Homo sapiens: one gene and its partners. The protein of the gene in region 6 purifies or fractionates together with the protein of the main gene of each other region. This does not show direct contact. Each region holds a gene or a part of one and is shown on either strand. Other genes may lie near its edges. The genes, in order: ACAD11, RNF216, DNAJA2, ASPSCR1, DNAJC7 and URGCP.

Region 1 (4,929 bases), on a different chromosome or scaffold from region 6:
TAGTTGTCTTATAGATTTCCCACAGTCTGAACTTTACTGATTACATTCCTGCAATGTCCTTTAATATGTTCCATGGAGTTTATCCTTTTAACTCCTGGAATTTTATAATATTATTCAACTATTTGACATCATTCCTAACATTTCTCATTAAATCTTTATATGATTTCAAATCTCCTCAAACCTCTTTTTATAATAAATCAGAAAAAAGAATCCGATCATTTGTTTGAGACTTTGTACAGATGTGTTTAACTTAATCTGATCCAGTTGTGTGCAGCCTTGTAATTGAAAATCTAGTCAAATGGTAGTTTTCCCAAGGGACTAGACTTACTAGTAAACATTAAAAGTAATTTTTGCAAAAAGACCCTTGTAGGCAATTGCCACAGACCCCTGAACTGTGATAAAATAAAATTTTGCATTAAAATGAAAAAATATTTTTAAAATTTGACCCTTAAGAAATTAATAAAAGAACCAGGCTTATTGAAAGTGGGATCACAGCCTCATATACGTTGACATATAAAATATTATATTAGACATATAAAATTTCTCAGCTTTTCTAGCATGCTGATGTCTGAAATGGTGTAAATGGGAGAGGTGGCAGTTCTTTCATGCTGCTTTGACTTCTGGTTATTTTTGTGTAGCAGCTTTCATTGATGGGGTCCATTCTTGGCCTTGCCTAATCATTTTTCTTGGATGATATAGAGTGTTACAAAAGAATTATTATCTTAATGAATCAGGAATGTTCTCTCTATTTGTTTTCTGACATAGGTAAAGTGGGAAGGATTAGAACCTTCAAGGTGAAATGTCAAACTAGAAATTTCCTTTTATAATCTGCTTGTGTTCCCCTTGGTTTTAGGAGCTGGGAATCCCAAGTGCAAAATTGCAATTGTTTTGGGAAGAACTCAAAATACTTCTCTCTCCAGGTAATTAAACAATTCTGATTGAGAAACCTGTGTAGGAATGAGCCAGTCTTCCTCCTATCTAGGTAATTTACTTAAAATTCACTGTTTGGACTCACAAATCATAATGTAAGATATGAGAGTAAATGTCATATATTTGTATTTCACAAGTATTTTCTAACAGGTGTTTTTGGAAAACATTATAGGGAGTATTGCTGAACATTCTTCGCTGTGGAATTTTCAGTATTAGAAAGTGTTGCTAAATTATCAAAGCTGTTTGGATTAAATTATCAGACAAATTTTTTCAGACCTGTGTAATGAAGTGATTAGATGTTTAGATCAAAGGCAATAATCTTGAAATGTTTAATTATATATATAAGTTCCCAGTTACCATTGTTGAGCAGTGAGAAGCTTCAATCAAACAACTCATTTATTTTCAAATCATTGTTTCTGTTCCAGATCACAGCCTGCATCAGACTATGTTGGTGTACGTCTTTTACACAGTTCCCATTCCAGTCATCACTGCTTACATGACTACATGAAAACATCAAAAAGACAATTGTGATTCTGCTTATTATCTGTTTTATTTTTCTTCTTAGCAAACTTTTTCTAATACAATTTTTCTTTTGACTAGACACAAACAGCACAGCATGATTCTTGTTCCCATGAACACACCTGGAGTAAAAATAATAAGGCCTTTGTCAGTTTTTGGCTACACAGGTAGGTATCCAATAAATATGACCATGCATTAGCAAGCAGGAAGGCTAGAATATGCAGTAACATTGAAGGCAATAGCATTTTAATGCATAAGATAGATTCTTAGATATTCCTTTGTCTGTGACAACTGTCTTAATATAAATGCTGGTGGAGTTCAGAGTAGAGCCAATAAAAAGAAATAGTATAGCATTTATGTAATTTATAATTATATAAATTATAGAATTTATAGAATATAAATTCTGCCTTTTTGGGAAAGGGCAGATTGTATTTAAGGAAGAGCAACACTACCAGTCTTTTCTCTGTCATTCATAAAAATGGATTAATGCACAGATAATCCACAATAAAATTATTTTTATCTCCAATTTTAGCCCTCTTAATCAATCAACTTACAAGAACTGTTAAAAAGCAATGAGTTTTTGACTTATTTGAGTGCAAAATTTTCCTTCCTCTGCCCTTGGGTGGGACTTCTAAGAAGCAAAGATCCATTTGTTTCCTGCCACCTACTGTGGCACGTGTTCATTGTGTACAATAAATATTTGCTAAGATCACCCTCTCAGCAAGTATTTGCTTAGCCACCATGCCCAGCTAATTTTTGTATTTTTAGTAGAGACGGGCTTTCACCATGTTGGCCAGGCTGGTCTCGAACTCCTGACCTCAGGTAATCCACCCTCCTCGGCCTCCCAAAGTGCTGGGATTATAGGTATGAGCCACCGGGCCCAGCCCCTGGCTTTCTTTTTATCATTGAATATGACTAATGAATATGTTCAAGTGGCAGATATAAGACTTGCAGTTTTATAGAATCACTTATCAGTTAAGATGCAGCTGTAGAGTATACCCACAGGGTAAGCATAGGTGGCAAGATGGGATGAGCAAGCTTGCTGGAGAAAATTGCATGTAGGAAATTGTTGGGTTGCAGCGAAACGGCCGCAAAGATACCAAAAATGCGTTTATAATATAGTTGAGCTGCAAATAATTTCCATTGCAGAGGCTACATTTGATTATTCAGTATGAAAACTTTACTAGCACCTCTCCAACTCCCTGTGTCCAGGGCCAAAAGAAACAGTGTGGAGAAGGCTGATTATTGTCTCCTCTGACAGGAAAAGGGTGTAGAGTTAGCATGAGATTATCTCTAAAACTTGGCAGGGAGAAGGGGTGATGCAAAGATAAAATGTGAACGTGTTCCTGGCCTCAGTGTTTCAAATGCCAGTATTTTCAAGAGACGAACACACAGTGGAACAAGTCTAGACTGGGAGTAAACCTACCTGAAGGTCTAGTTTCTGTATCATCACTAATGCCAAGCCTGCTCTTTCCCCTCAAGCAGGCCCCTGTCATCTTTAGGCGTTGGTTTCCACAATGATAAAATAAGAAACATGGATTACATTACTCATTTTTAATTTTTGAAACATTGAAACTTTTTTCCATGCAAATTGTTTGGAACCCCATATGTAAAATATTTCAAAGAAGCAGCAATAATAAAACAAATAAAATACTCTGGCTGGATCTATGGAGCCTGGTCTTCCTTTTTCCTAGCTCTCTGAAATTGTACTTCAGAGAATGAATTAGAAAACATCTGGATCAAAGGGTTTCTCTTCTTGAACAGTTGATGAGTTTTCTGGGCTGCTGGGTCCTGGGGTTCAGGGCTGAGGCTTACCTCAGAATGTTCATGCCATATGGATCTTTGAAATCCTATTTTCTTCAAGTAATTATATTTCAGCAGATTAAGAATATGTGACTCTTTTTTAGTCAACTCCTTTTGCTCTAAATTTTATTTTCTATTTTATAGATAATTTTCATGGAGGACATTTTGAGATCCATTTTAATCAAGTGCGAGTTCCTGCCACAAATCTAATACTAGGTGAGTTGAATTTGGAAATGATTCTTCAGTATTGTACATTAATATTTCAGCTCTAAATCTGGAAAAGATAAGTCTTTCCAGATTTAGACCTGAAGTCTACCTTGATTTAGATATTAGGTTCGTGCAAAAGTTATTGCGGTTTTTGAACTGCAATTACTTTTGCACCAAGGTAATTGCAGTTTTTGGCAAAAGCCGCAATTACTTTTGCACCAACCTAATACTTTCCCTTCTTGTTTACTCCATTTGTCAAGGGAAAGTTTTCTGTTTGGCGGATTTTCTTACATGGAATGGTGAGGTTTTATTTAAGTGTTGGATGTGGTTTTCTATATCACATCAATTGAAAAGATAATATGAAAATTATATAATTCAGAGCAATACACTTTCTCCTAGAACATGATCTGTAGGCCTCTATTTGTTTTAAGAAAACCTCAGTACTTTATGAATTCAAGTATTAGATATAAGTTAGAAGCATAAATAACTTTGAACACTGTATGCCATCCTCTTGCTTATTAGAATACTATATCCCTTTCAAAGAACATCTAGAATACCACCTCTTCCAGGAATGTTTTTGTGTTCATCCCATCCATTCACCAGGCCCCTGATACCTGCCAGGCCCTGAGGTTATAATGATGAACAGAAAATCTCTTCTTCCTTTGCCTTTGTTTCTCTCTGTATCTCTTACCCTTACCCACTCTTCTGGATTCTAAACTCCTAGTACAGGGACTATGTGTTATTCCAACTTTGTATCTATTGCAGCATTAATAAAATAGCTTATGCATAGTACATACTTAAGAGACAGTTCTGAAATTTGAAATGTTTAATGGTGGTGGTTTTAAAAACATAGAAATCAAAATTCCCATGAATTCATAGTGAACCTTATTATAGAACTGACTTTTTTTCACTAGAAAGCCATTTTTATTAAGGGCAGCTCATCTCTTTCCCAGGATTTGTATAAATAACAAAAGGAATGGGCTAGGCCATTTTCACATTCCCCCTTTTTTTCCCCTTTCTTCCCAGGTGAAGGTAGGGGATTTGAAATTTCCCAAGGCCGCCTTGGACCTGGCAGAATCCACCACTGTATGAGAACAGTAGGTTTGGCGGAACGCGCTTTGCAGATCATGTGTGAGCGGGCAACACAAAGGATAGCTTTCAAGAAGAAGTTGTATGCACATGTGAGGACGATTACTTATTTGAATTTATTGTAGCCCGGTGCACTACACTAACATTGAACAAAAACATTACTTGTGAGAGACAGACTTTCTCTACATGAACCGGGTGATTCTTTTCAATAAGGCATATTTATGTCTGTATTTAAATATAGTCTAATGAGAGGTATTTATCTTTATGAAAAATTAAATAGTTCCTAAAATGCTTCAACACCTCTGCACACAAGAGTGTAGACAGTTCCTTCAACTTTCTCAGATTCTTGTTCTTTAGAGAACCTGGAACATTAGAGCTCCC
Region 2 (4,929 bases), about 38 Mb from region 6:
TCTTCAAATTCAACACTAGTTCCCAGATTCATCTGTCTACATAGAAGATGAGGTCTAGAAAGGTCTTGAGAGATCTGGTTCTCTGTCCCCATTTTACAGATCCATTCTTCATTGCTTCAACAAATATTGAGCATCTCTGTCTAGACAAAGGGAATCCAAACACAAATAAGTTACAATCTCATGCCAGCCCTCAAGCAGCACACAACCTAGTGCCTAGATAAAAACACCTGGGTGGCCGGGTGCAGTGGCTCATGCCTATAATCGAAGCACTTTGGGAGGTCGAGGCAGGCGGATCACCTGAGGTCAGGAGTTCAAAACCAGCCTGGCCAACATGGTGAAACCCCGTCTCTACTAAAAAAATACAAAAATTAGCCAGACGTGGTGGTATGTGCCTGTGATCCCAGCTACTCGGGAGGCAGAGACAGAAGAATCGCTTGAACCCAGGAGGCGGAGGTTGCAGTGAGCTGAGATCGCACCACTGTACCCCAGCCTGGGTGACAGAGTGAGACTCGGTCTCAAAAAAAAAACAAACCAAAAACAAAACAAAAAAAACCCGCCTGGGTAAAGTAGGGTTAACGGACTTGTTTGAAGGCAAATAGTGGCTACCAGATGTAACACCTTTTTTTTTTTTTTTTTTTTTTTTTTTTTTTTTTTTTTGTGAGATAGAGTCTCACTCTGTCGCCCAGGCTGGAGTGCAGTGGCACGATCCTGACTCACTGCAAGCTCTGCCTCCTGGGTTCACACCATTCTCCTGCCTCAGCCTCCCAAGAAGTTGGGACTACAGGCGCCCGCCACCACGCCCGGCTAATTTTTAATTTTTTTAGTAGAGACAGGGTTTCACCGTGTTAGCCAGGATGGTCTTGATATCCTGATCTTGTGATCCACCCACCTTGGCCTCCCAAAGTGCTGGGATTACAGGTGTGAGCCAGCACGCCCAGCCCTTGTGTTACTCTTAATATCACCACTAATAGAACTTTGTTGGATGACAGAAACACTGTCCTCCATGCTTGATGATGAGGTAAGCTGTTAGCCTCATGTGGCTACTAAGGTTAAGATGTGACTGATGCCACTGGAAAATTTTATTTAACTGTAAGACATTTAAATGTAAACAGCCACAAGGAGCTAGTAAGTGCCATATTGGACAGCATAGGTCTAGGTAATTCAATAAAACTGCTTTAAGGGTTTCCATTTGGAGTGAACTCAAGGAATTTGAAAAAAACAAGGGACTGCAGGTATGACAGCACCAGGCCACCATGATATGCAGTTAGAATCCCAGAGAGCTTCCTGAAGGTTAAGTATAGTAAAGGAACCCTGATTCCATTTTCATGTCTTCAGAGTGTCTCTTCTATTCTGTACATCTAGATATATACTTCTTAGGAAAATGAAGTCCACGCATACCAACAACTTTTTTTTTTGCAATGAAAAAAAAAAAAGAAAAAAACTCAGTATATGTAGTGTCTACATTTACTTGATAAAATAAAACTTACCGTTTCTTTCACTAGTAGTTCAACGAGCTCTTGATCTACCTCTGCAGCTTCTTGCCCCCAAATGTTTTCCAAATTGGGCTCTTGAGATTCTTGCATTGGAAAGGCTGGACCTGGCTCTTCATCATCACTTGCTAACTGCTGGTCTTCAAACTCTCCTAGAGGATGGGCAGGCTGAGGAGAAGAGGGGCCTGAAATCCCACCTTGCTGGGGTTCCGGCCTTGGAAAAGCGGGCCCTGGGAATTCATGCTGAAACAACAAGCGGCCCAGTTCTGCTTCAGGCTGCCGTTCCTGAGGAACGACCTGGTTTGTTATTTCACGGGGCTGTTGGTTCAGAGACTGGAAGTAAGGATGATCTAACCAGCAGTCTTCTTCGATGGCCTGATCATCTGCTAGAGCAGCTGACTCTCCTAGATTTGATAACAGCTCTGTCTCTGAGTCTTCGGATGACTGGTTCTGAGTTTCCAAAGGATCGCTTTCTGTGTAAAGAAGGCTACCTTCTTCCAAGATGATGACTTTCTGCTCTGATCTGGGGTTGACAATGTCATTTGCTGCTTGGTTATGACTCGGTCCAGGCTTGGGTTCTCTTTCTGTTTGGCCACTTGGCTTAGTGAATTCAGAGATTCCAGGAGGCCCAAGATCCAGAAATTCACCGTAGTCATCCTCAGAATCATCCTGTGCCCCAGAATCAAACAATGGGTTGTTACACACTGAAAAATAGCTGCTCTTATCTGATTCAAATGCTGCTCTAGACTTTTTAGGCCTTTCTTCTCCCAACCTTTTCAGATCTTGCCACTGGGCAGCTGGTTTGATGAGATTGGGTCGTGATCTCTGAGGTTTATTTGTCTAAGAAAAAATGAAATTTTAATAATTCAATTTCTTTCCTATGCCTATCCCTCCTTATGTACTTATATTGAGCTTCCGAGATAGGACAGGAAAGAAACAAAAACACCATCTCCCTTAACAATACCTATTCTTTACATTTATCTTAACACTGAAATTTGATTACACTATATACTATCTGTAAGAATCAAAGTAGTCATTCATAGATTAAAGCTTGAGATATAGTTTGAATTATAATTTATTTTTATTTTTGAGACACAGTTTTCCTCTGCTACCCAGGCTGGAGTGCAATGGTGCGATCTCGGCTCACTGCAACCTCTGCCTCCCGGGCTCAAGCAACTCTTGTGCCTCAGCCTCCCAAGTAGCTGGGATTACAAAAATGTGCCAACATGTCCAGCTAATTTTTGTGTTTCTAAGAGAGATGGGGTTTTGCCATGTTGGCCACGCTCGTCTCAAACTCCTGGCCTCAAGTGATCCGCCTCCCTCAGCCTCCCAAAGTGCTGGGATTACAGGCATGAGCCACTGAACCCAGCCCTGAATTATAATTTAACCTGAGACTACTAAAACAAAAATAACTCCACAGCAGATACAACAATGAAAGAATGCTAACACATCAGAAGAATAAGAAATGTTCAAAAAACATATAAAAAAATCTAAATCTCATTAGTAACTAGCAAAATGAAAAATTAAAACAAGACAGTATTTTTTTCCCTGTAAGACCGGCAAACTTTTAAATTAGATAATACCAAGCATTGGTGAGGATGGTGAAAAATCTTTTTTTTTTTTTTTTTTTTTTTTTTTGAGACAGAGTCTCGCTCTATTGCCCAGGCTGGAGTGCAATGGCATGATCTCAGCTCACTCCAACTTCTGCCTCCCAGGTTCAAGCAATTATCCTGCCACAGCCTCCCGAGTAGCTGGGATTATAGGCGCACACCTCTACATCCAGCTAATTTTTCTATTTTTGTTAGAGACAGGGTTTTGCCATGTTGGCCAGGCTGGTCTTGAACTCCTGACCTCAGATGACTGGCCCACCTCAGCCTCCCAAAGTGCTGGGATTACAGGTGTGGGGCACCGCGCTTGGCCGATGTGTGAAAATTCTTATACTATCATTTACTGCTGGTGAATTTAGGAGAGAAATTTGGCACTATTTATTAAAATAAAAAACGTAGGCCAGGCGTGGTGGCTCATGCCTGTAATCCCAGCATTCAGGGAGGCCAAGGCAGGCGGATCACGAGGTCAGGAGATCGAGACCATCCTGGCCAACATGGTGAAAATCCGTCTCTACTAAAAATACAAACATCAGCTGGACATGGTGGCGTGTGCCTGCAATCCCAGCTACTCGGGAGGCTGACGGAGCAGAATTGCTTGAACCAGGGAGTCAAGAGGTTGCAGTGAGCCAAGATGGTACCACAGCACTCCAGCCTGGAGACAGAGCAAGACTCTGTCTCAAATAAATAAATAAATACACAAATACATAAATATAAATAAAAAATGTATGTCTGTCATCATTTTTTCATACTGTTCTATAAACTCTATCGAAAAAGGGCATATACAAGAATATTCAGCATAAACAGAAAAAAGCCTAGAGACATTGTGAAGTTTGTCCCTGAGTGAATGGTTAAATAAACTATTACTTATTTGTTCTACAAAATACTCTACAACTGACCCCTACCAAAAAAAGAGGTAGCTCAGTCTGTACTGAAATGGGAAGCTTCACTAAGAAATGCCATTAAGTGAAGAAAAGCAAGCTGCAAAATCATACACAGAATGATTCCATTTACTTAAAATATGTCAATAAGACACAAACAAAATCATTTCTAAAAGTATGTATATGTACCCACATGTATATACACATGGATACATACAAATTCAAAGAAAAGACCTGGAAGGATACATGCTAAACTGGTAACAACAGTTCCTCTGGGAAGTCCCTAGAAGAAAGGAGATGGTGAATCTCAGGCTTTAGGGTGGGTCCCTGAGGACTATGCCACTGAAGTAAGGGCCAAGCTGGAAATACCCTGGACCTCCCAGGAACTGAATCGCAGCGTGGAGAGTTTAACTCCCTGAATGTGAGGTGCTGGTGCTCTTACTCTTCTTCAAGAAACCAATTAAGATCCTCTATAGAGAAACAACATCATACAGAATCCCAAAATTTTCATATACAATGACTTACACTCAATCAAAAATAACTAGGCATACAAGAACTTAATGCAGCAACAGAAAATCAAAACAAGAGAAGTAACAGACAACAGAAACAAATATACAAGGGTTTCACACAGTGAAATTAACAACATGAATTCTAAAGTAACAGCATGTTTAGGGAAATCAAAGACTAGATTGAGAACTGCAGCCAAGAAGAAGAAGAATCGAACGCAAATTCCAGAATGGAAAAATACAATAACTAATACAAAAACTAAAAATACAATAACTAATGCTACATATGGATATATAGCATTTTAAGTAAATACAGTTGAAGAGAGAAATTAGTGCATTGAAAGCCAGGTCAGAATAGCCATAGTAAGGCATAGACAAAATGCAACATTAGATAAGAGAACACGTCAAGAACAAAAAGGTCTTCAAAACACATAACTGGAGTTGTAGA
Region 3 (4,929 bases), on a different chromosome or scaffold from region 6:
CCAGGCCCCAGGAGTGGAACCCGGAGACATTGTTCTTTTGCTACAGGAGAAAGAACATGAGGTGATTTTCCTTTTTTTAGTTTTTTGTATTTTGTTTTATTCAGAAGTACTTCTTGCTTGTGAGAAATAGGTTAGATCTGTTTGGAGTCCCTGGAGCAACACTGAACACTGGTGAAGTTAAGGGCATCATGGTGAGTTCCTAAGACGGGCTTGTGTAAGAAAGACTAACAAGGCAGGTGCAGTTAGAAGCACTGTAAGAGTCAGTTTTAGTCCTGGCTTGGTTTCTTCCCCCTGCCCCTCAGTTGGAGTTTCACTCTTGTTGCCCAGGCTGGAGTGCAATGGTGCGATCTCGGCTCACTACAACCTCTGCCTCCCGGGTTCAAGTGATTCTCCTGCCTCAGCCTCCCGAGTAGTTGGGACTACAGGCATGCTTCTTCACTCCTGGCTAATTTTTATTTTTAGTAGAGACAGGCTTTCTCCATGTTGGTCAGGCTGGTCTCAAGCTCCCAACCTCAGGTGATCTGCCTGCCTCAGCCTCCCAAAGTGCTGGGATTAAAAGCGGGAGCCACCGCGCCTGGCCTTGGTCTTTTTTGTGTGTGTGTGACGGAGTCTTGCTTTGTTACCCAGGCTGGAATGCAGTGGCACGATCTTGGCTCACTGCAGCCTCCACCTCCCAGGTTCAAGCGATTCTCCTCTGGCCTGGTCATTGACTAACACTTTAACCATAGGTAATCTTACTGTCTCAGTTTCTTTGTTTATGAAAATAAGGGCACTGGGTGTTGGACCAGTTGATCTAAGGCAGCCTGTATTTTCACTGTGAAACTCTGCTGCTCTGTCGATTTGGTTTTTACTTATTGGGTACCCAAGTGAGCTATCCTTGAAAGGGTTCTGGGATTTTTTTTAAAAAAAATATTTTTTTAGAAGCTTCTGAAGAATGTGGTCACTAGTGTATGTTTTGGGGGGTTTTTGTTTTTGAGATGGTCTTGCTCTGTCGCCCTGGCTGGAGTACAGTGGTGTGATCTGGGATCACTGCAACCTTCGCCCCTGGGCCCAAGCAATCCTCCCATCTCAGCCTCCCAAGTAGCTGGGACAACTGGTGCACCATCATGCCCATCTATTTTTTTGTTTGTTTGTTTTTTGGGGTTTTTTTTTTTTTTGTATTTTTAGTAGAGACAGGGTCTTGCCATATTGCCCAGGCTGGTTTTGAACTTCTGAGCTCAAGCGATCCTCCTGTCTCAACTTCCCAAAGTGCTGGGATTACAGGTGTGAGCCACAGTGCCCAGCCTAGTGTATGTTATTTTGATTTTAACATTGCACTTGTATATTTTTAATGTCCATATTGTATACTGTAGACCCTACTCAAAGAATAAATCTGGAACTATTCATGAAAAACCCCTCCAGTAATCACCTAAATTCTTGAATGTTAGAAGCACTTGATAGGACTCTAGCTTTGTACTTGATCACATTTACTCATGTGTTCCTCTGAAAATCATTACATCACAGGTTAACCACCTTTTTAGTTTGCCCTAAAATTTTCTCCTATGCATAAGCCCAATGAACACGGAGAAATGGTAAATTTGTATTATGTTCAGTGAAAGGTTATTCTTTTTAATTCTAAAAAGGTGGGCAAGCTGATTATCATTTATAATTTAAAGGTTATATTTGATAAAGAAGGAGATCGTCCTTCTGTGGTGATCATTTCTTCAAATAGAGTAAATTTTAAAAATCACTTTAAGAATCCAATAGAGAACAACAAAGCCATATTGAGATGCAGGTTTTAGGAATTTGGTAGTAATCCCTCACAAGGTCAGACTTGATCTCCTGGACAATCAGGGCATGCTAGTCAGCTTTCATGACTCAGCAAAGCTACAAATTATGTATTTTGGCTTTTTGTGGAAATTGCCAACCCTACAGATAGCAAACGTCTCCTCGGTTGTCAAAAAGTAAGAGTAGTTTTTAGAATTCTGCCTTTGGGTCTTGTAGAATGAAATATTTACAAGATTTGCTATTTGTTAACATTTTAGCTACTTCCTTGTTCCTTCAGTCTTGCTGCTGTGCACACCACCATACCAGGAATATGAGGGAGAAAGCTAGCAAGACAGCTAAATAATTGGAAATTCTGCTTGGAGGTTAGACTGTGTTGTAAAATGGTACAGACAGTGCCTGGGCATTTTCATTGATAGAATCCTTGGAGTCGTTTGGGGTTCGTTGTCAAATGATGTCTGGCAGTGCAGCAGCATGATAGGAAGTGAAGAAGGAATGCTTATTTGCAGAGGAAGGATGACTTTTTTTTGGTTTGAGGCATGTCAAACTGATGGTAAAACCTTTTTTATCCCTAAGTTTAGTTTTTAATGTTGCTGCATAATTAAATTGGGTTTTTAAAAGTAGATCATTGGATTTGGAGGCAAAGGACTTAAGGTCTGGGCCCCGTTTACTAGCTTTGGCTTCCCTGGACTTTTTGGATATTAAAGAGTCAAATGAGATTATGAATAAGCTTCTTTCTTGGGGCCTGTGGGGAGGTGTTGGGAAGTAACTCATCTCTGAAAATTGTTGGCAGCAGTGGAATTGGCATGGAATTTTCAACAGAAGGCAGATGTAGCTAGTTGTCTAAAGTAGAAAATAGAAGATGGTAAAGGTTAGAATGGAAGTTTGTCTCGTTCCTTCTTGGGAGTGCTGTATCATCTATAGTCATCATCCTGCCATGTCACTTGTCAGTGTGCCTGTTTGTGTGTCTCGGTGGTCTGGTTACCATAGTGCACTTGTACAGCATCAAACCACAGAACCTGGTGATGTTAGTCACGCCTCTATAACCTGTACTTTTGTTATTCAGAAATATGACTTCTAAGTGTTTTCTGGTCTAGTGCTTGGTGGTCCCTCCTCATTAATCTTGTTTTTCAGAAACTCTCTGGCATCCTTGCTTGTTTATTCTGTTTAAACTTTTAACATCAAATTGTTTAGCTTCCCCGCTCTGCTGCAACAACCATCCTGATAATCATAATCATTTTTTATTGAAATCACTTTCAGTTGAACTCTCCTGTACAAGAACGTGATGTGTATCTCTTCCTGTTCCCTTTTCTTTTTTTTTTTTTTGAGACAGTCTTGCCCTGTCACCCAGACTGGAGTGTAGTGGCGCAATTGTATTTTTAGTAGAGATGGGGTTTCATCATGTTGCCCAGGCTGGTCTCAAACTCCTGACCTCAAGTGATCTGCCTACCTCGGCCTCCCAAAGTGCTAGGATTATAGGTGTGAGCCACCGTGCCCTGCCCCACTTTTTATTTTTGTTTTTATTTTTGAAATGGGGTCTCACTCTGTCACCCAGGCTGGAGTGCAGTGGCGCGATCTCTGTTCACTGCAACCTCCACCTCCCGGGTTCAAGTGATTCTCCTGCCTCAGCCTCCCAAGTAGCTGGGACTACAGGCTCATGCCACCACACCCAGCTAGTTTTTGTATTTTTAGTAGAGACAGAATTTCGCCATGATGACCAGGACCTCAGGTGATCCACCTGCCTCAGCCTCCCAAAGTGCTGGGATTATAGGCATGAGCCACTGCATGCATCCTAAAATAGTATGACTTTAACAAAGGATATTTGGTAAGATGGTTCTTAGAACACTGGCATTTTACAGTATACTTAGCATTTATTTTAAATTTATTATTATTATGTTTAAGAGACAGGATGTCCTTCTGTCTCCCAGGCTGGAGTGCAGTGGCTGGATCATTAATGAGGAGGGACTGCCCCTGCAGGCTCCAAATCCTGGGCTCAAGGGATCGTCCTGCCTCAACTAGCCTAGTTTATGTTTTAATTTTTTGTCTCCCTATGTTGCTGTTTTGAACTGGCCTCCCAAAGCTCTGACCCTATATTTAGCTTTTTTAAATTTTTTTATTTTTTTCTTATTGAGATGGAGTCTCGCTGTGTCGCCCAGGCTGGAGTGCAGTGGTGTGATCTTGGTTCACTGCAGCCTCCGCCTCCCAGGTTCAAGTGATTCTCCTGCCGCAGCCTCCTAAGTAGCTGGGACTACAGGCGCGTGCCACCACACCTGGCTAATTTTTGTATTTTTAGTAGAGATGGGGTTTCACCATATTGGCCAGGCTGGTCTTGAACTCCTGACCTTGTGATCCGCCTGCCTTGGCCTCCCAAAGTGCTGGGATTACAGGTGTGAGCCACTGCACCTGGCCTACTTAGCATTTTTAATGCGTTGAAAAATCCTGCATTAAAAAAACTATTGGTCCCATTGTGAGGAACACTTGAATATATGTGCATACATAACATACCTTCTTGGATCTCAAACTTTAGCACACACACAAGAATTGCCTGGAGGGCTTGTTAGGACTACAGATGCTGGATCTTGCCTGCCTTGTTTCTGGCAGGAATGGAAGTGGGGCCCAAGAATATGTGTTCCTAACAAGTTTCCTGAAGCTGCTGGTCCAGAACCACACTTAGAGAATCATTGGTTAAGGTAATGGTTTAACTTTGTTTAATGAGTAAATTTAGGAGAGTAACATAGGAAAAGAACCTGTCTACCAGATTTTCTATAAGTGAACCGGCCAGGATTGTTCTTTACAAGAAGAGTGACCATTGTAAAATCTAAGCAAAAATTGCAGGTTGGGCGTGTGAAGTTGGATGTATTTTTCCTACACATTGAAGGCTCAGAAACATTCTTTGTGCTTATTCTCAATACCTTTTGCATTACCTAGTCCATAGGCTTATAGTGTAATATTGAATGAGCCAGTTTTGCATTTTAGTGAGATGTGAGACTTGTTGGTATGTGTGTGAAGCACGGAATTGAGCCACTTGACTTTGCTGGCTGGGTGTTAACTGGTTGATGTTGGGTTTTATGTTGATCTTGGACCCTCCCCCCTTCCCTGTTACGATCATGTCTGGGGAGCACTCCAGGGTGAGCCTGTTCTGTAGGAGCCCTCTGGGCATTCTGT
Region 4 (4,929 bases), on a different chromosome or scaffold from region 6:
CACCAGGGCGTTCCTAGCAGGGACCGGGGGGCCAGCGGGAGAGGCCGGGCAGGGGGAAGGGGCAGCTGAAGCCCAAGGCGGCCGCCTCCAGCTGAGGGCCTGGTCCCTCTGGGGCTCCCTGAGCCCTGCTCCGAGGCCTGCCGGGCCCTTCCTCACCCAGACCCCTGGGCAGGGACTGCTGCCGCCTTGGCCCCAGCACAGCAGCCCAGGGGGGCCGAGACCTCCAAGCGGCCTCAGTTCAGGCAGGCCGCCTAGCAGGTCCTTTCCCACCCGGGGCCAGGCAGGAAGCAGAGGAGGCCGGAAAGCCGTGTCAGAAGCAACTTCAGAGGCGCACGGCCCCCTCGGAACCCACCGGCTCTCAAAGGCTTTATTATCCTGCCCCAGCGCCTGCCAGGCCCCTCCTTCCTGCCCGAGGCCTCACGCTCTCGTCCTGCCCTCCCTGGAGGGCCCCGCCCCGCAGCACCCCAGGGAGGCCCTCAGGTACCTGAAAGAGGGTCTGCGTGTGGTCGTCCAGGACTGTTTTTGGAGGGGTGATGACTGAGGAGAGAAGGCACCTACGTGTTAGGAAGCACCGTGGACCTCGCCCATCCATGCGCCCGAAGGAAGACAGGCCTGCAGATGGGGGTGACGCCTCAAGTGGGGCAGAAGAGCCCCTCACGAGCACGCCCTGTGCCCACACTCCTGCTGCAGAAACTCCAGCTGAGGGCTCGGAAGGGCCGGTGGGGGGCAGGCCCACCTGCAGGGGACACCACCCGTGCAGCCCGGCTCCCCTTGCAGTGGGCAGCCTAACCCTTTGCCACCTAGACACCCTCCAAGGGAGGCCAGCCACTCCCTGTCCACCCACCCTTCCCACAGCCCTCGGGCAGGAGTGGCCTGAGCCCCAGGGGTGGGGACCAGGCTGGGGTGCAGCAGGGCTCCAGAGGGGAGCAGGGCGCTGAGAGAGAAGGCAGGAAGCCTGGCTCCCACCGCCTGGCTCGGGGAGAAGGGCCCTCCTAGGTCTCCACACAGACACCATGGGCTGCAGGAGGCACCTGGGCGGGAGGCCACAGATGCTGCTCCTGTGGAGAAGCTGCCACGAGCCCCAGCTGGGACGGGCGGTGTGCCCACAGCACCAAGGCCCCGAGCACTGGAGGCAGGAGTGGGCTCAGGAGAAAAAACGTACACAGGTAAAATGACAGCTCGGGGTTCCCCAGGTGGCTCCTCACGAAGTCTCGCAAGTCCCCCACTGCAGAGGAGAAAAAGAACATACAGACAGCTCTTCCACCACGCCAGCCCCGGGCTGCCCCAGCACCTGGGCCACTGCTCCCACCCTCCTGGGCCTTTCCCCGAGGGGTGGGAATTCAGCCCTGTTCCTCCCACAGCACTCCAGGTGCTCGGCGTGGCTGGGCCACCGTGCGGGCCACACTTGGGACCCCCGCCCTGCTGGAGAGCACTCCCACTGCCACCCGCTGCCCCCCAGCCCCACCCCCGCCCCAGCCTAAGCGCTTCCCTTTCCCTGGGGGAGGCCCCTGTGACCTTGGGCTGCTGCCGCCCGGCCGTCTGGGTACAGGTCACAAGCCCCTGAATGTCACAGCACCACTGCCCTCCTCCCGGGGTAGGGTGCCTTCCTCTGGGTGCCCCTCTGCCCCACCCATGCCCAGTAGGTGGGCGACGTGAGCACTCAGGACCACGGGCTCCCTGAGCTGGGGCCGGGCACCTGGAGCAAGCGCCCAGCCTGCCTGACACTCTGCGAACTGGGATGCCTCTGCACCCCCAAGGGGACATCAGCACCCGCACCCACCCAGTGCCCTGGAGCCCGCAGGCCAGGTGGCTGCAGTCCTGTGGCCTGGAAGGAAGGAGCCGGGAGAGGCCCCATGGGCCCCTGCCCCCCATCCCCGGACACCCCACAGCGCTGCCCACCTGTCTCGCTGGGGCGGAAGAAGCCCTGTAGGACGTAGCGGTCGGGGAACAGGACCCTCAGAGCCACCTAGGCCAGACAAGTGGAAGGGTTGGAGGGACGGCCGGAGCTGCACCAGGGACCAGGGCGTGGCCTCCCCACTCGGCCCATGCTGGGCCATGGACACCAGGGCTGAGGCAGGCAGAAGCAGCCACCCCCAATCAGGGCCTGGGCTTTGACTCCCCCGTGGCAGGCTGGGCATGGAGACAGCCAAGTGCCGTGTGTGTGCACAGCGGCCTGCGTTCTAAAACCACACTGACCTGGGTTCAAATGTGCTGGTTTTTTTTTTTTTTTTTTTTTTTTGAGATGGAGTCTCACTCTGTCGCCCAGGCTGGAGTGCAGTGGCATGATCTCGGCTCACTGTAAGCTCCACCTCCCGGGTTCACGCCTTTCTCCTGCCTCAGCCTCCCGAGCAGCTGGGACTACAGGCGTGCGCCACCTCTCCTGACTAATTTTTTGTATTTTTAGTAGAGATGGGGTTTCACCGTGTCAGCCAGGATGGTCTCGATCTCCTGACCTCATGATCCGCCCACCTTGGCCTCCCAAAGTGCTGGGATTACAGGCGTGAGCCACCACGCCCGGCTCAAATGTGCTGTTTAAAGTTTCATTCAGCCAGGTGTGGTGGCTCAAGCCTGTAATCCCAGAACTTTGGGAGGCCGAGGCGGGCAGATCACCTGAGGTCAGGAGTTCGAGACCAGCCGGGCCAACATGGTAAAACTCCATCTCTAGTAAAAAAAAAAAAAACAACAAAAATTAGCCGAGCTAGTGGTAGCGGGTACCTGAAATCCCAGCTACTTGGGAGGCTGAGGCAGGAGAACCACTTGAACCCGGGAGGCGGAGCTTGCAGTGAGCTGAGATGGCACCACTGACTCCAGCCTGGGCGACAGAGAGAGACTCCGTCTCAAAAAAAAAAAAAGGTTTCATTCTAAATCATGAGCAGGGGAGGATCAACTGGCCACTAAGGGCATGCGCGCCACCACGGGGGGGCCCTGCTCAGAGCTGTGCCTCAGTCGCCCCCACGTCCCATCCACAGACCTCACAGGGGGCCCCCTCAGAGCTGTACCTCAGTCGCCCCCACGTCCCATCCACAGACCTCACAGGGGGCCCGCTCAGAGCTGTGCCTCAGTCGCCACCACGTCCTGTCCACAGACCTCACAGGGGGCCCGCTCAGAGCTGTGCCTCAGTCGCCCCATCCCGTCCACAGACCTCACGGGGGGCCCCCTCAGAGCTGTGCCTCAGTCGCCCCCACATCCTGTCTGCAGACCTTTGGGTAGCGCTCCAGCTTCTCCTTTATCTGCGCCTCCCTGAAGGCCTTGGTCACCAAGGGGGCTTCTTCCAGGCGCTTCCTGTGGTGAGGAGGGGAAGGAACAGGGCTTCTGGTCAGAATGGGGGCCCTGGCAACAGGCCCCGGGCTCCTCACCTGCACCCTCCAGGGTGGGAGTGGGCTGCTCTCCCCACACAAGGCAGGAAGGTCTGGACGCCCCTCCCTGGGCCCCAACCCTCTGAGGTCCTGTTAAGGGCAGCCTGTCAGGGACCTGGGCCGGGAGCCAGTGCTGGCACTGGGGACAGCGGGCAGCACAAGCACCCGATGGGGCAAACCCTGGCGCGAAGATGCCGGGAGGCACTGAGGGGGCACCCACCGCTCACTCTTGAGCTGGGCCAAGCGTCTTCTCACGTCGTCCACCGTCAGCTCAAAGAACTCATCAGGCAGCTCCGCTGGCCAGGCCTGCAGCCGCTCCTCCAGGTCGGGGTGGCACACCACCGGCTCCCGGTCCACGGGCTCCCGGTCCACGGGCTGGAGGCAGAGGGCGCGGCTGACGGCGGGTGTCACGGGCTGGGCCCTCCGCACCCCGGGCTGTCAGTGCCCCAGCCGAGGTGGTCACACAGACTTGGGAGCTGGGCCCACTCCCTCCCTGGCCCCGGCCAGCGCAGGGCCAAGGCCAGGTCCTGGGGGCAGGGCTGGGCACAGCAGCTGGGGGACCCCACCCCACTCAGAGCCTGTCCAGGGCTGGAGACCCCCCTCTCCCAGTCAGTGCACCAGACCTGATGCTGAGCCCCTGCTCCCCAGCAGGGCACATGGCCCCTGGAGTCTGGCTCAGGCCACGTCAGGGTCTCCATGGGGGGGAGGGGTGGCGACAGCCGCCAAATTAGAGCGTCGGCAAAAACCCCAGTCCAGCTGCCCCCGCTGCCCTCTTGGCCACAGCTCCATGGCCAGGCTGAATCCATGCACGCCTGCCCCCAGGGAACAAGCCGGCCCCTCCCTCTGCCCACCCTGGGATGCGGGAGGGACAGCGTCACCCCTAATTGGCATCAACAGCAATGAAATTGACAAAGCCGGGCCGTGCAGCTCGCGGAGCCCTGGGCAGTGATTTCAATGCATTCAGCACAGTGCTGGGGTACGTGGGACACCTCAGCACTGCGCCGACCCACACTCGGCCCCGTCCCCCCTCACACAGAACAGCCGAGAGCTGTCGGGAGTTGGGGTGGCCTGGAGCCGGCTCTGGGCTCCCACTCCTACCTCACACTCTCGACACCTGGGGATGGCTTGGCAGTCCCTGCGAACAACCCTCCTGGTCCCGTCCCGTCTACCCTGCAGTCTCCCACCCAGCCACGGGCTGCTGCCTCCTGCCCTACACAGCATTCCAGCACCCCCACCATGCCCACACTGGGTGACAGCCAGGGTGCGCCTGCCAGAGGTACGCCTGTCCCAGGTGTCTCCAGGGCTGCCCTCCGGACACACCTGAGACCTCGACTGCTGTGGGCGACAGGGCCCTGCAGCCACCCAGCATGTGGCTCTGTTATGACTTGTCACGGGAGTCTGGCGGGAGCTGCACTGACCTCAGCAGCGTCATGGCAGGGCAGCCAGTGAGGGCTGACCACGGCTCGGCAGTGGGGCCCACAGGTGGCTGACCAAGGCCCCTGGGGGCTGCCCTTCCAAAGCCACAACCATCCTGCAGCCACTGAGAGCAGCCTGCGCCAGAGCTTTTTATAAC
Region 5 (4,929 bases), on a different chromosome or scaffold from region 6:
TAGGCAGAGGAACATGTTTATTGTGGTGAACCTAGGTTTATTAAACACAAATACCCCCACACTGAACTGGAGAGGACTCAGCATTATCTATATAGTACCATCATTCTTATTTTAAATTCCGGCTGGGTGCGGTGGCTCACGCCTGTCATCCCAACACTTTGGGAGGCCAAGATGGGCGGATCACACAAAGTCAGGAGTTTGAGACCAGCCTGGCCAACATGGTGAAACCCCGTCTCTACTAAAAATATAAAAATTAGCCGGGTGTGGCTGCAGGTGCCTGTAATCCCAGCTACTCAGGAGGCTGAGGCAGGAGAATTTCTTGAACCTGGGAGGTGGAGGTTGCCGTGAGCTGAGACTGCACCACTGCACACCAGCCTGGGTGACAGAGTAAGACCATGTCTCAAAAACATAACAACAAAAAAAAATTAAATAAATAAATAAGTTGCAATGGAAGGCCAGGCACAGTGGCTCACGCCTGTAATCCCAGCACTTTGGGAGGCCAAGGCCAGTAGATCACTTGCGGTCAGGAGTTCAAGACCAGCCCGGCCAACATGGTGAAACCCTGTCTCTACTAAAAATATAAAAATTAGCTAGGCATGGGGGTGGATGCCTGTAATCCCAGCTGCTCAGGAGGCTGAGGCAGGAGAATTGCTTGAACCCTGGAGGCAGAGGTTGCAGTGAGCCAAGATGGCACTACTGCACCCAGACTGGGCTCAGTCTTAAAAAAAAAAAAAAAAAAAAAAAGGCCGGGCGCGGTGGCTCACGCCTGTAATTCCAGCCCTTTGGGAGGCCGAGGTGGGTGGATCACGAAGTCAGGAGTTCCAGATCAGCCTGGCCAATATGGTAAAACCCCGTCTCTACTTAAAATACAAAAATTAGCTGGGCGTGGTGGCGCACACCTGTAGTCCCAGCTACTCGGGAGGCTGAGGCAGAAGAATCACTTGAACCCTGGAGGCGGAGGTTGCAGTGAGTCGAGATGGTGCCACTGCACTCCAGCCTGGGTGACACAGCAAGACTCCGTCTCAAAAAACAAAACAAAACAAAAAACAAAATCCCAATAGATTTTCTTAGTGGAAGAGATGGTAGGTCTGTTCACCATTCACAGGTCAGGTCCTCTTTTTTTTTTTTTTTTTGAGACAAGTCTTGCTCTGTCGCCAGGCTGGAGTGCAGTGGTGCGATCTCAGCTCATTGCAACCTCCGCCTCCCGAGTTCAAGCGATTCTCCTGCCTCAGCCTCCCAAGTAGCTGGGACTACAGGCGTGCGCCACCATGGCTAGCTAATTTTTGTATTTTTCATAGAGACGGGGTTTCACCATGTTGGGCAGGATGGTCTCAATCTCTTGACCTTGTGGTCCGCCCACCTTGTTCTCCCAAAGTGATGGGATTACAGGCGTGAGCCACCATGCCCAGCAAATTTTTTGGCAGACAACTTAGAGTGAAGACTGACTGAATTAATTAATTAATTTTTGAGATGGAGTCGCACTCTGTAACCCAAGCTGGAGTACAGTGGCGCAATCTCAGCTCACTGCAACCTCTGCCTCCTGGGCTCAAGAGTTTTTGGTGCCTCAGTCTCCTGAGTAGCTTGGACCACAGGCATGCACCACCATGCTCAGCTAATTTTTTTGTATTTTAGTAGAGAGTACAATTTTTTTGGTATTTTGTATGTTGCCCAGGGTGGTCTTGAACTCCTGAGCTCAGGTGATCTGCCCGCCTTGGCTTCCCAAAGTGCTGGGATTACAGGCGTAAGCCACCGCGCCCAGCTCACAGGTCAGGGCCTCTTATCTCTGACAGCCCACAGTGAGCAACAATATTGACAATAGGTGTGCTTTATATCATGCTAAATCTTTTTGGGAAATTAAAATCTGTGAGTGTTTATAGGAATGTATGACATACATAAATGTCAGCATACACTTTGCAGTGGGTAAAAAAGAACTTCCAGATAATAGGAAAATGCTCATATTCCTTACCACATACAGCCCTTATGGCCTGTGAGCTCTGATCCAGCTACTTGCCGGCCTTCCACCACCACCTGCCTCTAGCACCCTATCCCTTTATCTTCCCTAGACCAAGCCCCCTGCAGATCCCCAAAGAGGCCATGCTTTGCTTTTTTAGTGGGGAGGGATGGAGTCTCACTCTGTTGCCCAGGCTGGAGTGCAGTAGCGCCATCTTGGCTCACTGCAACCTCCACCTCCCGGGTTCAAGTAGCTGGGATTACAGGTGTGCACCACCACACCTGGCTAATTTTTCTTTTTTCTTTCTTCTTATTATTTTTTTTAATTGAGACAAAGTCTTGCTCTGTCGCCCAGGATGGAGTACAGTGGGACAATCTCGGCTCACTGCAACCTCCGCCTCCTGGGTGCAAGCGATTCTCATGCCTCGGCCTCCCGAGTAGCTGGGATTACAGGCGCCCACCACCACACCTGGCTAATTTCTGTATTTTAGTAGAGACGAGGTTTCACCATGTTGGCCAGGCTGGTCTCAAACTCCTGACCTGGTGATCAACCTGCTTTGACCTCACAAAGTGGTGAGATTACAGGCATGAGCCACCGCGCCCAGCCTAATTTTTGTATTTTTAGTAGAGACAGGGTTTCACCATGTTGGCCAGGCTGGTCTCAAACTCCTGACCTCAAGTGATCTGCTTGCCTTGGCCTCCCAAAGTGCTGGGATTACAGGCATGACCCATGGGGCCATGCTTTTCTGCACTTCCAAGCCTTCCCTTGCTAGTGCTCGCCTCCTCAGAGCTCACTGCACACTGTGAACCTGCCACATTTGACTGCATTTGTTTGACTCCATGTCTATTACTGTTTGGACCAGGGATCAGATTTGGCCCAAATAGACTCTCCCTCTGGAGCATCTTTGGAAAAAATTCTAACATTCTACAGCTGTCAAATTCATCCCAGGCTGCCCCAGCCAACTCACCACCCATATTCATGCCCTCCTCATCTAGGTCCTGTCCACTGTCATAGCGAGTCTTTTTCTTGGGATCAGAGAGGATAGTAAAGGCCTCTCCAACTTCCTTGAACTTCTTCTCCTCCTCCTTCTGAACCTCAGCACTGGCTCCACTATGCCGATCTAAAGTGGGGAGTAAAAGAACAACTCAGTGGAAATCAAAGTTTCAAGAAAACAAAGTTTAAGAGAAAAACTACTTTCTGTCTAATTTTGGAATTTGGCACTTCCCAAAATTTGGAGGGTCCACAAGTCTGCAACACCTTATTCTCAGCTGAAGGACCTCTCCAAGGGGTCCCCTCTGGACTGAGTGTGGCAGTTGGCCTGCCCTGCGGGTTCTTCCCACTGAGCCCACTCCCCGCACCTACTCTACCTGGATGGTGCATCAAGGCCCGTTTCCGATAAGCTTTCTTGATCTCGTCCTCAGAGGCATTCTTGTCCACTCCTAGAATCTTGTAGTAATCTTTCCTCTTACTCTTCTTCAGTTCCAGCTGCGCATTTTTTAGGAGCTGTTTGTGTTCTACAGGAAGACATCTGGCATCAGTGGACAAATCTGACTCTGGTTTTTTCCTCACCAGGTCTCAGCCCAGCTGCCTGGGAGTTAGAGGCCTTGTTAACCATGCCAGGGACTTTTACGGTGCTTTCTTCTGGAGATTAGAAAAAAAATCTACTCGGCCAGGCACGGTGACTCATGCCTGTAATCGCAGCACTTTGGGAGGCCTGCATCAATGAGAGATGCAGGTAAATGAGACAGAAAAGGGAACTCTAAACACAGGTTTGCTTCTATTTCGGTAGCACGAAAGAAAGGAGGGGCCCTTGGCCCAAGATGGGAGGAATCAAGCTTGACAGAATGGATCACCCGAGGTCAGGAGTTCGGGACTAGCCTGTCCAACATGGTGAAACCCCATCCCTACTAAAAATACAAAAAATTAGCCAGGCGTGGTACCATGTGCCTGTAATCCCAGTTATTCGGGAGGCTGAGGCAGGATAATTGTTTGAACCTGGGAGGCAAAGGTTGTAGTGAGCTATGATCATGCCATTGCACTCCAGCCTGGGTGACAGAGCAGGACTCCATCTTAAAAAAAAAAAAAAGAAAAAGAAAAAAGAAAATCTACCCAGACTTAGGTTCCTCACTTTAGCCTCACCACACAAAAAATGAAATGAAAACGACAGGGAGGATCTGGAACCAGAAAATAGGTGCCTCATGCCCCAACCCAAGATATCTGTTCACTTTTTTTTTCTTTTTTTTGTTTTTGTTTTTGAGATGAAGTCTCGCTCCGTCACCCAGGCTGGAGTATAGTCGCGCAATCTTAGCTCACTGCAACCTCCGCCTCCTGGGTTCAAGGAATTCTCGTGCCCCAGCCTCCTGAGTGGCTGGGATTACAGGCGTATACCACCATACCCACAATTTTTTGTATTTTCAGTAGAGATGGGGTTTCACCATGTTGGCCAGTCTGGTCTCCAACTCCTGATCTCAGGTGATCTGCCTGCCTCAGCCTCCCAAAGTGCTGGGGATTACAGGCGTGAGCCACCACGCCCAGCCTTTGTTCACTTCTTTCTGGCTGGTGATCAAATAAGTTCTAGGTAGATCCCTGATCCCTGAATCAAACTACCTTGTGTACAGATTTATGGCCTACGAAGTCCACACAGTTCCCTAAAAAACAAATGCTTTTAAACTTACCTTTTGTTTTCTCTGTCTGGTATACTTTTTCATAGTCTCGTACTGCTTCTTCATACTGTTCTGTGTCCATGTAACTGAGAAGGAAATACAAGGCAATACAGCACTAAGACATAAATAGCAGTGGTTCTCAGGATCACTCTAGGGCAAGAGGCATGGCTCAAGCAAGAGACACACACTTCTGGTAAGATGCTTCAGAAACAGGAGCCCTTAATCTAGCAGTGAGAGAAAATTAGCTAACAAGTCCTCAAGGAAATAAAAAGAGAGGTCGCATGGCACTTGCATCCAACCAGCAAAGTGATGTTC
Region 6 (4,929 bases):
ATACAAAAATTATTTGTATTTTTGTGATGGTGGGCGCCTGTAGTCCCAGCTACTTGGGAGGCTGAGAATCACTGGAACCCAGGAGGTGGAGGTTGCAGTGAGATCGCGCCACTGCATTCCAGCCCAGGCAACAGAGCAGGAAAATGAAAAAGGGAAAGGTTTTCCTAAACTTATTACTAAGAGACCAGGTTTGCAGAGAACCAGGCTCCTGGAACGCAGGAGGCAACAGTTTGGATGTCCCGGGAGCAGCAGGTGGAGCATCTGGGGAATCCAGAAATCCACAGCAGGCAGCCTGCCAGGCATCTCCAGAAGAGGGACCAGGAAGCCTTTTGTTCAAGAAAGGATTCCAGTCTAGAAGGCTGGTGAGCTCCCGAGAGCTAAAGGCTCCCTTGCTGTGTCTAGTGAAAGGAGGACAAGAAACATGGTAGGAGCTCTTGGGGAAGGGCCTGGTTTCTCTGAAGTCAAGAAACACAAAGAGAAAGAGGCTCCAAGGTCTAAGCAAGGCCCAGAGGATCAAGCAGAGCTTCCTAGAGCTGGTGAAAGGGCTCAGGTGGGGTTCTGAGGCCCAGTGAGGTGACACTGGCCTCTGGGAAGGGCCAGCACAGGCAAGGACTCCAGCGGGAAAACTGACAGGGCAGAACTACCAAGTCCTTGGCCAAGCCTCTGGTTCGAATGGTGGCAAGTGGGCTGTGGATGAGGTCGGGGAGGATGTAAGAGGAGGCGCTGGCACTGACATGGCTGCCCAGGGGTGAGCCCAGAAGCCATGGGAGTCTGGAGAGGATGAGAGGAAGAGATGCAGGGCTGGGCGTGACAGCACCACCCTTCATCCGCTCCAGCTCTGCCCATCCAGGTGTAAGCTCTGGGGCAGGGGATTACCTGCTCTAGGCTTCCTTTTCCTCAACTGTGAAATGGGGTGACAGTGGAAAGACCTCAGAGTTACTGTGAAGGTATTTAGTTTTAATCCCCAGTAACAGCCTGAAGAATGGCTCCTGCCTTAAAGAGAGGGAACAGGATGGCTTTTTTAAGTGGTGCATCTCTGTGCTATCTACCATTCCAGATACTGCCTGTACCGTACACCCTCCTCAGACAGATGCTGCTATCCTCTTTGAGAAACAGGAGAATTAAGGCACAGAGAGGCAGAACCTGCCCATTACCATCACTTGTGCACTCATTCATTTAACAGACATTTATTAAGCGTCTACAATGTGCCAGGCCCTGGGGACACAGAGCTGGAGAATGTACAGTCCCTGCCCTCAAGGAGCTCACAGTCTGGGGGGACAGACATGTAAACACATGAGTTACAACGCGCTGCGTGAAGTGTGTGGCAGAGGTATAACAAAGTGCTGTGGGGCACAACAGAGCGACCAGTGAACTCTTCCTGGGCAGGGGTCAGGGAAGCCTTCACAGATCAGTCAATAAATACGGTGCCATGGGAGTGCCTTGCACACCACGGGCACTCACATCTTGAATGCTGGTCCACTGGAGGCCCTTGGGTTGGGCGGGAGCAAGGCCTACTTCTGCTTCCTCAGGACAACTTCCCCACCTCTGTCCTGGGACCACCTGCCCGCCTGGGCCTGCAGTGACTAAGGACGCTGCTCCCACTCCAGGGGCCAGTGACAGAGAGCAGCTATACAGAGGGCCCACCCCGCAGGATCCTTGACAGGAGCTGAGACAGAACAAACTGCTGCTTGTCTCCCTACCCTGGGGGCTGTGATATTCTTGGTAACATCTCTGAGCTGGTCTGTGAGGTCACTTCCTCTTTTAACACTGTTGAGGAGACTCCAAACCCTGTCTTTTCCTCGTCTTCTCATGTCGATTGGGCACCAGCCATTCTCAGGCACCAGAGCACAGCCCCACACGGGTGCCCCATCAGACAGGGCTGCCCACAGCAGCCTCCTACACCTGAACTGGGTTTCTCTGCACACTCACAGCCGTCTCACCAGCTCAATGAGCTGCTGGATGTTTTTGTTTTGGTTCGACAAGCCGTTCCTGATGTTTTCGAGTAGGCATCTCTTCAATTCAAATATGGCTTCACTGTAGGCCAAGCTCACTGCGGCCATGGGAGGTGCTCCGTGCCACAGGCCTGGGATGTGCCAGATGTGCTGCTTCTCAGGGTCGCAGAAGGCCAGGCCTGCCAGTGCCCGGAAGCCGTCGCCCTGTTTCTCCATCTGGGCTGCAGCCCTGCTCAGGTCACCAGGTGGATCCAGGAGCTGTCTCTTGTCTCTGGGCCTAGGGCCGGGAACAGATACATCATGAAGGTTCTGGTATACAAACTGGTAGTTGGGCATGTGCCCCGTTTTTTCTAACCTCAGAAATGCATGCAGAATAGCTGCTGGAATGTCCTTGGTTTCAGCTAGACTGATCACGGTGACATTGCTCAGTCCCATGAGCAGAGTGGCCAAGGAAGCCTCCAGCTCAAATCTGTCCCCAGCTGACGTCAAGGCCCCACCTATCAAGCCCCCGGAGTCTATCACCAGGATGTGGTCACAGCCCAGGTCCTGGCTGAAGCCCTCAGCCACTGTGATGAGCTGCATGAAGGCCCCTCGAGGACCGCAGCTCTTCCCTGTGGCAAACCGCAGCCCAAACATGGTGTTGAGGAGTGTGGACTTGCCCGTGCCTGGCACCCCGACGGTTGACAGAACCACCAGCCTTGACCGTCTCTCCAGTCGGACGTGCAGCTCCTTCAGGAGCCCTGTGACCCAGCGGACGGGCATGCTCAGCGTGCTCCCATCGATTAGCTCCAGAGGCAGCCCTGTCAGCAGCAGCTCCGAGGCCAAGCCTGGGAAGTGGGCAAAACGCCTCTGGCCTGCCGGCAGCCTCCCTGCCTCCACAAGACAGCTCTCAGCCTCATAAAACTGTCCCATCTCCCGCAAGAAGTGTTCCACCCCTAGGGGCTCAGGCCAGAGCGGCTCCCCCACGTCTGTGGTGCCCCCATGCTTTGGTCTCAGGGTGAGAAGCGTCTCCGGAGGCTGTCTCAGTCGCGGCTGGGCCACCCGTGCCAGGCCCCACTCCATCCACCTCAGGAAGTACTGCTTCTCACTCAAGGAGGGGCTGCTGATCCCCGAGATGAACTCCTGCACCCCCGAGGAGGGATCATGGCCGTTCTGCTGCATTCGAAGTTCTAGCAGCCGCCGCCTCAGCTCAGCCCTGTGCTTCTCAGGGGGGTCCACGGCCCACTGGAGCTGGCAGAACTCCTTCTCCACTTGGGCTGCCTTTCTCCAGGGGTCCCCCTGCAGCCTCAGCTCGTCCCTTCTGTAGGCATCCGAGTCTTTGATTTTCCTGGTAATCCTCTCCATCCGGTCTTTCGCTTTCTGACACTCCTCACAGTCCTCGTCGACCTTTAGGCCCAGTTTGCGGGCTGCGTGCGCCATGTCCTCCACAGATACCCGCCTGCAGGGTGCCCGCAGCACATTCCCAACGATGGCCCGGATCCTCTTCACGAAGCTGTCGCTGTCAGTGCTGCTGACCTTTACCAGGACATGTGAGTGGTCTATTTTCAGCACAGGAATTAACTTATTCAGAAATCTCAGGTTTGTGTTGCGCTTCCCACGGTAGGGACTCAGGATGAAGTAGTATTTTGTGGTTGACTCCTTCATGGAGTACAGCAATTTGTATTCCTTCTTACTGATATTGTCAGTCAATATAAACACAGCGGAGGAGATTTCTGTCAAGAGCTTAAACTGCAGCCAGTGAGACCCGATGTCACCTCTCAGGTTCAGAAAGGCCACAGGTTCTGGGAAAATGTCCAAGTCCTCCCTTCCGCTGGGAAAAAACCAGGAAATTTCTACCAACCCATCCGAAATCTCCCGGGCATTGGTGCCCAAGTTGAGGTCCCGATGCCAGAAGCAGTCCCACTGCCTGTGGCCCGGGCTGAGGACGGCGTTGAGAAGCTGGGACTTGGAGTTGCTACTGACGTCCATGCGCACGAAGGCGAAGGCGGGCGCCCTGGACAAGACCACGCTGTCTTCCCGGAAGCTCCCCATGCCCCTTGGGGGCTGGGACCACCATGTCCTCACAATGCCCCGCATGGCCCACAGCAGAAATGTATGGTAGTGGTTCTCCGAGTCAGGCAACACGAGTGGGAGTGCAAACTGGCAGAGGGCCATTTTCAACGCTATTTCTTGTTGCAGGAAACTGTCTGAGGAGAGCAGCAGGGCACAGAGAAGGTCTAAGGGGTTCACTGGCGTATCAGGGGTGGGCAGCTCAGAAAAGGAATAAATGTCGGCAGCAAGGTCATCAGCTGGGTCCCAGTAGATGATCTCCTCTTCCATCTGGCTCTCCTTCTCCACAGGCCTGGCGTCTGGGAGCACGTCCAGCACCATAGTGGTATTCCTGGCATCAGCATTGAGGGCCTGCAACTTCCTGAGGAAATTCCAGGGCAAGTCTTTGGGAACCTGAGGGGCCCAGTTCTTCATACTGTCAAAACTGATCTGCAGAGAGTCCTGGAGGCTGAGTTTCTGGACCTGGTACGTCTCTAGGCCCAAAAGTGACAGCATTTCTTGAAGCCTGCTTCTCTCCACTGTGGAAAGAAATGAAGACATAAGTGCTCACCCTGTGTTTCTGAGCTAGGGGCCAGGGAAGAGCTGGTGAAGGAGAGCCCAGCAGGATGGGGAGAGTGACGACCCCCTTCAGAGAGCAGAGTGCAGGCACAGGAGGCTCAGGGTGTGCTCAAGGCTGACCTGAGATCAAGGCAGGGCTGGAACCCGGACATCAAGGTACAATAGGTACCAACCTAACCACAGATATATGTGACATTAAACAAAAGAAAGAACAGAAATAAATAAGCTACATTTAACAACTGGAAGAGTTCTTGCAAAAGCCATATTTCTGGTCTTTCTAGAAACCTGTAAGATCTAACACTGAGCTCAAAATTAATTGGCTACAGTGAGCAGCACATGACTCCTACAAGCTGAATGCAGGCCTCACCTC

What was found.
Region 1: the proteins of URGCP (region 6) and ACAD11 purify together in Homo sapiens (affinity purification with mass spectrometry; one large-scale study listed by BioGRID and IntAct). This does not show direct contact.
Region 2: the proteins of URGCP (region 6) and RNF216 purify together in Homo sapiens (co-immunoprecipitation; one large-scale study listed by IntAct). This does not show direct contact.
Region 3: the proteins of URGCP (region 6) and DNAJA2 purify together in Homo sapiens (affinity purification with mass spectrometry; one large-scale study listed by BioGRID and IntAct). This does not show direct contact.
Region 4: the proteins of URGCP (region 6) and ASPSCR1 purify together in Homo sapiens (affinity purification with mass spectrometry; one large-scale study listed by BioGRID and IntAct). This does not show direct contact.
Region 5: the proteins of URGCP (region 6) and DNAJC7 purify together in Homo sapiens (affinity purification with mass spectrometry; 2 studies listed by BioGRID and IntAct, with this or other methods). This does not show direct contact.

Annotation. Positions count from the first base shown.
Region 1 is NC_000003.12:132,575,483-132,580,411, reverse strand, and holds part of ACAD11 (acyl-CoA dehydrogenase family member 11), read left to right. Parts: intron 1-853; coding exon 854-920; exon of another isoform or gene 921-1,530; coding exon 1,531-1,616; intron 1,617-3,396; coding exon 3,397-3,468; intron 3,469-4,485; coding exon 4,486-4,640; intron 4,641-4,929. UniProt on the Homo sapiens protein: Acyl-CoA dehydrogenase, that exhibits maximal activity towards saturated C22-CoA.
Region 2 is NC_000007.14:5,739,486-5,744,414, forward strand, and holds part of RNF216 (E3 ubiquitin-protein ligase RNF216), read right to left. Parts: intron 2,331-4,929; coding exon 1,488-2,330; intron 1-1,487.
Region 3 is NC_000016.10:46,959,743-46,964,671, reverse strand, and holds part of DNAJA2 (dnaJ homolog subfamily A member 2), read left to right. Parts: coding exon 1-61; intron 62-4,929. UniProt on the Homo sapiens protein: Co-chaperone of Hsc70. Stimulates ATP hydrolysis and the folding of unfolded proteins mediated by HSPA1A/B (in vitro).
Region 4 is NC_000017.11:82,007,839-82,012,767, reverse strand, and holds part of ASPSCR1 (tether containing UBX domain for GLUT4), read right to left. Parts: intron 3,732-4,929; coding exon 3,577-3,731; intron 3,283-3,576; coding exon 3,201-3,282; intron 1,967-3,200; coding exon 1,900-1,966; intron 1,226-1,899; coding exon 1,163-1,225; intron 613-1,162; coding exon of another isoform or gene 538-612; coding exon 485-537; intron 1-484. UniProt on the Homo sapiens protein: Tethering protein that sequesters GLUT4-containing vesicles in the cytoplasm in the absence of insulin. Modulates the amount of GLUT4 that is available at the cell surface. Enhances VCP methylation catalyzed by VCPKMT.
Region 5 is NC_000017.11:41,978,937-41,983,865, forward strand, and holds part of DNAJC7 (dnaJ homolog subfamily C member 7), read right to left. Parts: exon of another isoform or gene 4,701-4,929; coding exon 4,627-4,700; intron 3,466-4,626; coding exon 3,319-3,465; intron 3,072-3,318; coding exon 2,919-3,071; intron 1-2,918. UniProt on the Homo sapiens protein: Acts as a co-chaperone regulating the molecular chaperones HSP70 and HSP90 in folding of steroid receptors, such as the glucocorticoid receptor and the progesterone receptor.
Region 6 is NC_000007.14:43,874,742-43,879,670, forward strand, and holds the end of URGCP (up-regulator of cell proliferation), read right to left. Parts: intron 4,520-4,929; coding exon 1,926-4,519; 3' UTR 1,172-1,925; downstream 1-1,171. UniProt on the Homo sapiens protein: May be involved in cell cycle progression through the regulation of cyclin D1 expression. May participate in the development of hepatocellular carcinoma (HCC) by promoting hepatocellular growth and survival.